Homo sapiens: one gene and its partners. The protein of the gene in region 1 purifies or fractionates together with the protein of each later gene. This does not show direct contact. Each region holds a gene or a part of one and is shown in the gene's direction. Other genes may lie near its edges. The genes, in order: TPTE2, KIFBP and TEDC1.

Region 1 (3,156 bases):
AAGTGGTCATCAGGAGAAGGTTGTATAAGGCAGATATCAGGATCAGTCACATGGAGAAACTGGGAGGAGGTGAACTGGAAACTGCTGAGGGTGACTGAACCCCGCTTCTGAGATCAGAAAATACAATTTATAATTAAAAGGGATGCTGAGGCAACAAAAAAATTATAAGAATTCACTACAATGTAGTTGGGTATATATAGGCATAGGTCCTTAGTAGCATCTGTTTGGCACTATCTAAACCAGATTCAAATAGCAGCATTTAAATTAAAGACCTATCATGGGAAAAACACTATTCCTTGAAAATTTTGATAGAAACAGCAAGAGAATGCAATAGCATTTTCTTAAAGCCTCCTCCTTTGTGTCTTGAGTGTATTGTTATAGATTGCAGAGTGCTACCTATTTAATGGTTATAATTGTTTGATAAATATATAAAGGAATAAAGAAAGGAACTTTAATTTCTTTGGAATGATTAGTTCCTGGTGTCAGTTTTACTTTGAAATTTTTTTTCTTTTTAGAATCTTCCTAAATACTATGACAATTGTCCATTTTTCTTCTGGTTCAACACGTCTTTTATTCAAAATAACAGGTATGAATATAATAGAAACCCATAGAAACAGCCTAATCTTCAATGTCTATAAATAAGGTGTAATGGCAAGTCTTTTGCTGGTTGTCATAAACTTAATTTATAGAAAGCAAAAAATCCCTGAGCCACCATTTTTCCTTGCCTTACTCCTCTTACTTTGGTTATTTTAAAAATACATTTGTTCTTGAGACCCACTGTTGCAGTATCCTCAGGGTCCATGCCATAGGACTGTGTTATGAGTTCAAAAGTATTATCATCAGATCTTAAGTTTGGTAGTAAATTCCTCCCAGAGAAGTTCAATATGAGTCTGCTCAGCACCTTCAGTATGTCAGGTCCCTGTCAGTAGGTGCTGATTTACCAATGACGAACCACCATCAACTTTTGTGCTAAAGTAAGGCAGGACCTAGGGAGGCTTCAGCTAGCTGAAAAGCTGACGGACACACTTATATCTGGGAGAAGTTACAAGACACAGTATTAAGGAATACAGCTAAGAAATATCATTAAGTAATAGTCTATTTAAATAGCCATTCAAATGTGGCTTTCTAATAACTGAATTGGGAAAACTTTCTGAAAAATTACTAATTGGGTTTGGAGATTATTGTTCCAAAAAAACCTGCCATATTTGGAACCACATTTCTCAGTCTAGAAGTTCTCCACTATAAGTAGCATTTGTTTTGTGATGGTGAAAAATTGAGATTTTTTTTTGTATCAACCATACTCTTCAATACAAAAGGACAAAATATTTTTTAAATGATTTAGGTCAGAGTTGAAGAAGTGGCTATGATTATATGTGGCATGAATTGATAGTTATTGTTACATCCAGTCCTAATCTTTTCTTCAAACGTGAACTGGATCGAATAACTCCTTAAGTCCAGCAAGGCAACAGGAAATTAAACCTCTGGTCTACACACTTGCAATGCAAAACATTTAATGGATTTTGATAGAGTCAACTTTGGATTTGATGGAAATTTTTTACAAGTATTTTTTTTAGATGCATACAAACAATAAGCTTTTTCTTCTAACATGAGCAAAGTCCCTCAAAAAGTGAGACCTGGGTGGAGCTTCATTTGATGCTGCTCCTCAAAAGTGGTTCTTGCTAAAGGATACCGTTTTTTTCCTTTAAAACACTGCGTTCATTTTGGAGAAGTGATAAGCTAGATCACTTTTATTCTTACTTTTATATAAATTTCTAAAGATTTCTGTAACATTTAAATTTACATACTACTTGGTAAAGCTGTTTTTGTTAGTTATGAGATTGTTGTTTAGCCAAAAATGCTAACTTCTATCATTTAGAACACCAGGCATAAATGGGTTAACCAATTTATGCCTAGTGTTCCATTATTGGAACGCTAAGCATATGGGAGTTATAGCCTACTGCTCAAGGTCATTTCCAAGGTCTGATTGTAAAAATTCAAAAAATTGCAACTTCACACATAAATTAAAAGAGATATAGTATTTTATTCCTGGGTTTTCATTCATGTCTATCCTGACTGATTTCTGTCACAGAGAGAAATTTAGATATTTTATTAAACTTGGATGTCATTAATTCCATATAAAGCAATGCTAAGAGAGTCAGCATGTGTTACTGATGTGTTGCTGAAGATTAAAGTATTTTTAAGTCTCACTAAAAAGGTGGAAGGAGCCAACTGAAATGCAAAAAAGGGTCTGGGGTTCTATTCATGGTGAGGTTTTTTTTTGTTTCTTCCAGCTCTAACGTGGGTACCCAACTGCGTGGCTTTTTGGTGAGCCCCAATATAAAATGTAATTTTTTTTTTCTATTCTTAGGCTTTGTCTACCAAGAAATGAATTGGATAATCCACATAAACAAAAAGCATGGAAAATTTATCCACCAGAATTTGCTGTGGAGATACTTTTTGGCGAGAAATGACTTCCAATGATGTTGTAGCTGGATCCGACTAAGTATAGCTCCCCCTTCCCCTTCTGGGAAAGAATTATGTTCTTTCCAACCCCTGCCACATGTTCATGTGTCCTAAGTCTTCCTTGATGATGCATCTATATTTATATATGTTTATATATGTTCTTCATAAATCTATTAAATATATATAGATAAAATGTCAGTGTTTTTCTTCTTTTTTGAAGGCACATACTTCACACACTTTCCATCTTGTATTTACATAAATTTGGAACACAGTATGCAGGAACATCAGGCATCATTTTGAAGAACTTTGAAATAGAACTTTCATGGCAAAAACTTGAGATATTTAAAAATTGTGATTCCCCAACACCCACTTACTTACATATTTTTGGTCAAGTATTTATTCCCTGCTTTGGTTCACATTTGTAATTTCAGATTTATTAGAAAGCTAATTTATATATTTTTCTTCCCCTTCATTTACAAACAGTCTGTTAACAGATTGGCAACCAAGACTAAGTTTTAAATCCAGAAGAGAGAAATGTTTCACATAAGCAGTTCCCCAACTCCCAACACACACTCTCTTTCATTCCGAGCATTAAATAGGTAGCTTACTTGACAAGCTTCCTTTAATTACACACAGACATGGGGGTTGGGGTAAGAAGACTGTGGTAAATATGAAGATAAGTAATCTTTGGTA
Region 2 (3,600 bases), on another chromosome or scaffold:
GAATCACTTGAGCCCAGGAGGCAGAAGTTGCAGTGAGCCAAGACTGCACCACTGCACTCCAGCCTGGGTAACAAAACAAAAGAACTACCTGAGACTGGGTAATTTATGAAGAAAAGAGGTTAATTGACTCACAGTTCCTCAGGCTTAACAGGAAGCATGACTAGGAGCCCTCAGGAAACTTAGAATCATGGCGGAAGGCGAAAGAGAAGCAAGCATGTCTTACCATGGCAAGCAGGAGAGAGAGAGAGGGCAAAGGGGGAAATGCCACACACTTCAAAACCATCAGATCTCATGAGAGAGCTCACTCATTACCACAAGAACAGCAAGGAGGAAATCTGCCCCCAGTGATCCAGTCACCTCCCACCAGGTCCCTCCTCCAATTTAATGTGAGATTTGGCCAGGGACACAAATCCAAACCATATCAGTGGTAAATAATATAGAACCTTGTGAAACTACTAAACGAAAGAAAACCAAACAAACAAACCTCAACACATCAGAAGCATAGGTCTTGAAAAGATGAAGATAATTTTAGAGGTCAGAGGGTAAAGAGGAGGCATATTAAGGAAAGACAGGAAGTAGGGAGAATAACTGTGGGGCTTTATGTGTAGAGAATTTGGAGCCAGGAAGAGCTGTCAAGTTTATTCTGGTCAGGTAAAGAAAGCTGGAAAAGGAGGGTTGCAGGGACTATTGGAGCAAAACAGTAGGCTAATTTAAATAAGCATCCTAGAGAGAACATGTAAGTAAACAAGCAGCCCAAGAAGGAAGGAAGTATACAAGATTTAGAGACTTATGATCTACATTTGAAGTAATTGTGTCAAGCAAATCGCACTATGATTTGACCCTTACCTTTCATTTAGTTGATGTTTCTAGTCTGGGAACTTAAAACTTCATCACTTGGTTAGTTTAAACTCACATATTTGCCATGCTACTAAACTACTCAGATTTTCCTTAAACCCAGTTTTGTTTTTTGAGATGGGGTTTCTGTCACCCGGGCTGGAGTGCAGTGGCATGATCTCCACTCACTGCATCCTCCACCTCCCTGGCTCAAGCAGTCCTCCTACATCAGCCTGCCAAGTAACTGGGACAACAGGTGTGTGCCACTGTGCCCGGCTAATTCTTTGTATTTTTGTTAGAGACGATGTTTTACCATGTTGCCCAGGCTGGTCTTGAACTCTTGAGCTCAAGCGATCCACCCACGTCGGCCTCCCAAAGTGCTGGGATTACAGGTGTGAGCCACTGCGCTCACCCCTGACTTTATTTTTTAACCTTAACTTCATCCTTTATCATCTGTATATTTATCTGAAAGACCTTCTTCAGTTCAAGCTTTAAGACATACATAAATTTATTCAATTAAGTATTTATTTATGCCAACCCTGTGCTAGTCATTGGCCAAGGATACTATGATGAACAAAAATGAACCTAGCCTTTAACTTCATGTAAAAGTACAATTTTGCTAAGTTCCACAAAGGAGAGACACATGATATGAGAAGGCACAATAGGAGGAAATAACAAGCAAGCTCTGGGGATGAGTAAGTAGGAGTTACCTAGACTGAAGAAAAGAAGGCACACCATGTCAAGGAGCTGAAGCAACATGTTTAGAAGTTCTGTGGCGTAAGGGAGGATGATATCAGAAGGGATGGAGCAAAGGCTGTGAGGTTGGAGCTGAGGGAGAGGGAGTGTGATATAAGCTAAAGTTAGAGTTAGAAAGGGGCTGGAGCAATCAAGGCTTTGAAGCATTGTTGTCTTCATCTTCTGAGCATTTGGAAACCTTGAAGGGTTTGTGGAAAGATCATTGGTGAGACAGTGTCAAGTGAAAAGAAGAAAAGGCCTTGGGATCTATTATTTATTTTTATTGGCCAAGAAGAGCTTACCCTATTTCTTAACCACCTTAGTTATTCTTTCTTTTTTTATTTGCCCCCCCCCACCCCCAAGAGGTAGAGGAGATAAAACTTTAACTAGGAAGGTAGATTTAACTCTTTGTTCACTTTGATGTCTTTAAGAGACCTAGAGCATTTCTGTCTGATATATTTCACTAAATAACTAATAGCATAAACATGGTAGCATTAATCTTAATGGCATCCTTGTGAAACATTTTTATGATGTAGATTACAGTCTTTTTGTTTGTTTGTTTGTTTCTTGAGATGGAGTCTTGCACTGTCACCCAGGCTGGAGTGCTGTGGCGCAATCTCCACTTACTGCAACCTCTGCCTCCTGGGTTCAAGCGATTCTCCTGCCTCAGCCTCTCAAGTAGCTGGGATTACAGGCGCCTGCCACCATGCCTGGCTAATTTTTTATATTTTTAGTAGAGACAGAGTTTCACTATGTTGGCCAGGCTGGTCTTCAACTCCTGACCTCGTGATCTGTCCGCCTTGGCCTCCCAAAGTGCTGGGAGTAATGTATCACATATATATAATGTTTCACAATTCTCAAAGTACTTTTACATGTAGCATTTATCTTATTGGAAGGAGTAACTGTAAATAAATTTCAGTTCCTCAGAATAAATGATATGTAAGCAGCTTGTCTATTTAAATACTTTTTTTTCCACATTTCTTGAGTTTTTAATATAATCGGAAGAAAGAAAGAAGTTTTCAAAGGTGTTTAAGATTATGATACCCTTCTAAACCAGGCTGGAAAGTAAGAGACTTCTCTTCTAAAAAACTCTGAAGTTTGCTTTAATATTATTTAACAGCAGGAGGTGAGTGTCCTACTTAACCATAATTTATTTTTTTTTCCTTCAGGACAACATAGGAGAGCTTGATCTTGATAAACAGTCTGAACTTAGAGCTTTAAGGAAAAAAGAACTAGATGAGGAGGAAAGCATTCGGAAAAAAGCTGTGCAGTTTGGAACCGGTGAACTGTGTGATGCCATCTCTGCAGTAGAAGAGAAAGTGAGCTACTTGAGACCTTTAGATTTTGAAGAAGCCAGAGAACTTTTCTTATTGGGTCAGCACTATGTCTTTGAGGCAAAAGAGTTCTTTCAGATTGATGGTTATGTCACTGACCATATTGAAGTTGTCCAAGACCACAGTGCTCTGTTTAAGGTGCTTGCATTCTTTGAAACTGACATGGAGAGACGGTGCAAGATGCATAAACGCAGAATAGCCATGCTAGAGCCCCTAACTGTAGACCTGAATCCACAGTATTATCTGTTGGTCAACAGACAGATCCAGTTTGAAATTGCACATGCTTACTATGATATGATGGATTTGAAGGTTGCCATTGCTGACAGGCTAAGGGATCCTGATTCACACATTGTAAAAAAAATAAATAATCTTAATAAGTCAGCACTGAAGTACTACCAGCTCTTCTTAGACTCCCTGAGAGACCCAAATAAAGTATTCCCTGAGCATATAGGGGAAGATGTTCTTCGCCCTGCCATGTTAGCTAAGTTTCGAGTTGCCCGTCTCTATGGCAAAATCATTACTGCAGATCCCAAGAAAGAGCTGGAAAATTTGGCAACATCATTGGAACATTACAAATTTATTGTTGATTACTGTGAAAAGCATCCTGAGGCCGCCCAGGAAATAGAAGTTGAGCTAGAACTTAGTAAAGAGATGGTTAGTCTTCTCCCAACAAAAATGGAGAGATTCAGAACCAAGA
Region 3 (3,946 bases), on another chromosome or scaffold:
GGAACTTGAGTACCGGCCGTGCACAGGGGCTGGGGGGCCTTCTGGAAACTCCCTTGTCAACTCAGCCAGCCGCTGCTGACTGGCCACCTTCAGAGACCCTCTTCCCCACACTGGCTACTTAGATACCGGCCTTGGCAGAAGGCCACCCCTCCGGACACCCACTGGTTTAAAAGAGCCCAGGGGTCTGGCCCTGCCTTAGGGCTGTGGTGGGTGTGCTGCAGGCTCAGCTCGACAGGTGCTGTGGGGGCAGTCTAGGGTGGCCCGCAGGGTGGGGTGTGTGGGGGTGATTGGGGGATTCCTGGAATTCCAAGAGCTGGGAGCCACAGCACTTTTGATGGGATGGGGGCAGGGGGTGCTGAGGTGAGGCTGGTTTCTGGCTGGACGGTGGTGGGTGGAGCTGAGGGAACTGAGATCTTTGAGACAGCGACACCTGGTGCAGAGAAAAATCCGCAAGCTCGGGGGTTGGGAGAGCGCTGAACAAGGCCGCAGAGCTGCTCCGCCATCTCCCCCACGCCTCCTGCCAAGTTCTGTGGCGCCGCGGTTCCCCACCTCCTGCTCCCATCCCCCTGGCTCCCGCCGCCCTGTAGCTCGGCAGGTGCAGTAGGCGCTCCGAGGAGGAGGCCCCTTAGCTTCAAGAAACCCGCGTGGGCGGGGTGAGGAGCGCAGTCCTCCTACTGGCGCCGTGAAGGAGATCGCGATGCGCCGGAGGGAAGGAGGCTGCGGGCGGGGAAGGACGGAGGGCGTGCGGGGAGGGAGAGGAGGGGCTTGCTGGGGGGGGGGCCCCGAGGCGGGGCCGGGAGGGCCGCCTGGAAGAGGAGGTCGGGGGCGAAGGAGGCCGAGAAGAAAGGTGGGGCCGGGACCCCTCGGGCTGCGCCTCTCGTGGGCGTGTCCAGCCAGGGCTGGGGGTCCAGGGAGGACTGAGTTTCCCTCTCCCGCCGTCCTCGCAGCCCCGGGAGGTGCAGGGGCATCGCGGGAACAGCCCCGGTGACACGCTGCCCGGGGTCTTCACGAATGCCCGGAGGCGCCGCTGGCCAGAAGCCAGCCCGACCTTCCATCCCCGCAGACAGCCCCACGTTCCTCCCGGCCCGCGTCTTTCGGGGCCGCCCGTGCAGGCGGGCCCGGCTCAGCGGCGCCCGGGCAGCAGCTGCTTCCATGCGCCGGCTTCCTCCGGGGCTGCTCCGTGGCGGCGGCAGAGGGAAGCGCTGCCGCGGGCGGGCGAGGATCGGGAGCGCCTGAGGAGGCTGCCGCGGGCTCCGGCTGCGCGTTCGGGGCGGGGGAGCTGCCCGGGACTTCGCGCCAGGGGCCAGGGGCCGGCCGCGCTGGGGTCTGCGCTGTGCGGCGCGGCGGGCTCTGGGCGCCTCCTGGCGGCCCAGCCTGGAAGGCGGCGCGATGGGGCGAGGCTCGTCCGCTCCGACTGCGTAAGCGGCCCCACAGGGCGCCTTCCGGAGTCTGCGCGCTCCCGCCCGGCGGTTGCTAGGTTGCCAAGGGGCGTGAGGCGCTGATGGGTGGGGTCTGAGCGAGGCGGGGTGTCGGGTGTCGTGACGATTGAGCCTGCAAGGGCGGACTCTGCGGTGTTCTCCATATCAACAGCCCTGCCAGGAGCCCGGAAGTGGGTCCGCACGAGACAGAATAGACTACACTCAAACTCCAGGGGAACCGTTCATTGGGCTTGGACACGAAGGCGGGACCCTGCCGACGCAGTGATTGGATGCATGTCCGGCCAGCGCGGTGATTGGGTACAGGTCTCGGGAGCGCGGTGATTGGGTACAGGTCTCGGCCAGCGCGGTGATTGGGCGCAGGTCCCAGCCGGCGCGGTGATTGGGCGCTGGACCCGGCCCGTGCCATGATTGGGCTCAGGTTCCAGCCGGAGCGGTAACTGGGCGCAGGTCCCAGCCGCCGCACTAAACCCGGCCCGTGCGGTGATTGGACGCAGGCCCCGGGCCGCGGCGGAGGCGGGCGATCCGAAAGAGGCTGGTGCTGGCTGCATGGGGAGGCGGCGGCAGCGGGTGGACCCCGCGGCTGGGGCCCGGGCCGGGGCCCTGCCTGAGGCCATCGCCGCGTTGAGTCGGTCGCTGCCCTCGGGACCCAGCCCCGAGATCTTCCGCCGCGCCAAGTTCGACCGTCCGGAGGCGGTGACGCTCTCGCGGAGGGCAGGCGGGCCGGGTGGGGTCCCGGGCCCTCGCAGGGAGTTGGGCCGGCTCCGCTGACCGCCCGCTTTTTATTTTCCGCAGACCTCCGCGCTCTGGCAGCTCCTCTTCCGTGTGCTCTCGCCACTCCCTGCGGGCAACGCCTTGGCATCGCTCGCCCTGGGTAAGCCCCGCTCCTGGCCCCGCCCACCCGGTAGCACTGGCCCCGCCTACTCCTGTAAAGCCCCGCCTTCCCCAGTAAGCCCCGCCCCGGCAGGCTCTAGCCCCCACCCAACACTGACCCCGCTTGCTCCTCAAAACTCCGCCTTCCCCGGTAAGCCACGCCCCCTGATGGGCCCTAGCTCCACCCCCTTGGGTAGCACTGGCTTCTGCTCCTACAAAGCCCTGGGGACGTCCCTGTTGGCCCCTGGTCTCCTCATCCTGGTCTGAGTTCTAGCTCTCCCACTATCATCTCTTCTGAACTAGGCCTTGAGCTTCTGCTCAAGTGACCTGTGGGGGTCTCTGGAGGGATCCAGGTGGTGTCACCTCCAGGTGGGTGGTCCCCCTAAGGTGGTGGTCTTCTGTCCTAGAGGTCCAAGCCCGCTTGGTGAAGTCAGCACTATGCTCCCAGGGCTACCCGAGGCTGGCACTGGCACAACTACCTGAGGATGGCTCGCAGGGCAGTCGGGAGCTGCTGCTGGCTCTGTCCTGGCTCTTGGCCCGAGGACCTGTGCCCGAGCAGATGCTGGCCCAGGCCCGAGTGCCTCTGGGTGACGAGATGACTGTGTGCCAGGTGCGTGTGGGTGAGGGTGAGCTGAGCCAGCCCTGGTCTCAACTCCTGGGGCCAGAGCAAGGGCAGGCCTGGGTCAGCCCCCTCTGTCTGCTTTGCTCCTCAGGGCAGTCCCATGAAGGGTTACCCAGCTGCCCAGCTGAAAGCACGGAGGCTCCCTGTGCAGGGAGCACCCGTTGTTTTTGGCTGTGCCTCCACTACCGTCTCCATCCTGGCCTTTTCTGGGGGGCAGGGTGGGGTGGGAGCAGGGCCTGACCCTTGCCCCTCTCCAGTGTGAGGCCCTGGCCAGCCCTGGCCCACCTGCACCCCACATGGAAGCAGAGGGTCCTGTGGATGTCCGCCATGTGCAGTGGCTGATGGGAAAGCTGCGGTTCCGGTGGCGCCAGCTGGTGTCCAGTCAGCAGGAGCAGTGCGCCCTCCTGAGCAAGGTAGAGCTGGCACAGGGCTTCCACTCAGGGGCTGTGTCCCGTGCTGCAGGCCGCCAGCTGCCAGTCCCTGCAGCCCGTCCCGTGAGGCCTGGCACAGGCTTTTGGCTGGATGTGGGCCTTCCTGCCCTGGCTTACCCAAAGCCTGAGCCCGTGGTTCCCGGTGGTCCTTGTAGGGGGCAGGGCTGGGCAGGGAGCCCAGTGGGGTGGGCAATGGTGGGCAGAAACGGGTGTCAGAGAGCTCACAGAATTTGCCTTTCTGTTCCCAAAAGTTACCAGTGGACTTCCAGCTCTGTGAACAGTGGGATGGGGTCTGTGCCATGAAAGCCACTCCCTCCTGGGCACTGGAGGGGGAGGAAGACAGCTCCTGTTGCCACCACATCCTGGTGGGGGCTGACTTGCGGGGTGGACAGCTCCTGTGGGGTCCTGAAGGTGGCAGGGGCTGGCTCAGGGGCACAGGTACCCAGTGGTGTGTCCACTGTGAGGCCAGCGCTGACAGGTGGGTCTGTGGCAGCGGCGGGCTCCCACCAGCGCGGGACTCCTTGGAGACCCCCCCATCCCACCCTTGCAGAGGGTCTGTTGCTCAGCTGGCCTTTCCAGGGACC

What was found.
Region 2: the proteins of TPTE2 (region 1) and KIFBP purify together in Homo sapiens (affinity purification with mass spectrometry; 2 studies listed by BioGRID and IntAct, with this or other methods). This does not show direct contact.
Region 3: the proteins of TPTE2 (region 1) and TEDC1 purify together in Homo sapiens (affinity purification with mass spectrometry; 2 studies listed by BioGRID and IntAct, with this or other methods). This does not show direct contact.

Annotation. Positions count from the first base shown.
Region 1 is NC_000013.11:19,422,377-19,425,532, reverse strand, and holds the end of TPTE2 (phosphatidylinositol 3,4,5-trisphosphate 3-phosphatase TPTE2), read left to right. Parts: intron 1-515; coding exon 516-586; intron 587-2,368; coding exon 2,369-2,471; 3' UTR 2,472-2,656; downstream 2,657-3,156. UniProt on the Homo sapiens protein: Acts as a lipid phosphatase, removing the phosphate in the D3 position of the inositol ring from phosphatidylinositol 3,4,5-trisphosphate.
Region 2 is NC_000010.11:69,012,803-69,016,402, forward strand, and holds part of KIFBP (KIF-binding protein), read left to right. Parts: intron 1-2,738; coding exon 2,739-3,600. UniProt on the Homo sapiens protein: Activator of KIF1B plus-end-directed microtubule motor activity. Required for organization of axonal microtubules, and axonal outgrowth and maintenance during peripheral and central nervous system development.
Region 3 is NC_000014.9:105,489,391-105,493,336, forward strand, and holds the start of TEDC1 (tubulin epsilon and delta complex protein 1), read left to right. Parts: upstream 1-1,855; 5' UTR 1,856-1,985; coding exon 1,986-2,132; intron 2,133-2,231; coding exon 2,232-2,310; intron 2,311-2,716; coding exon 2,717-2,919; intron 2,920-3,188; coding exon 3,189-3,344; intron 3,345-3,946. UniProt on the Homo sapiens protein: Acts as a positive regulator of ciliary hedgehog signaling. Required for centriole stability. May play a role in counteracting perturbation of actin filaments, such as after treatment with the actin depolymerizing microbial metabolite Chivosazole F.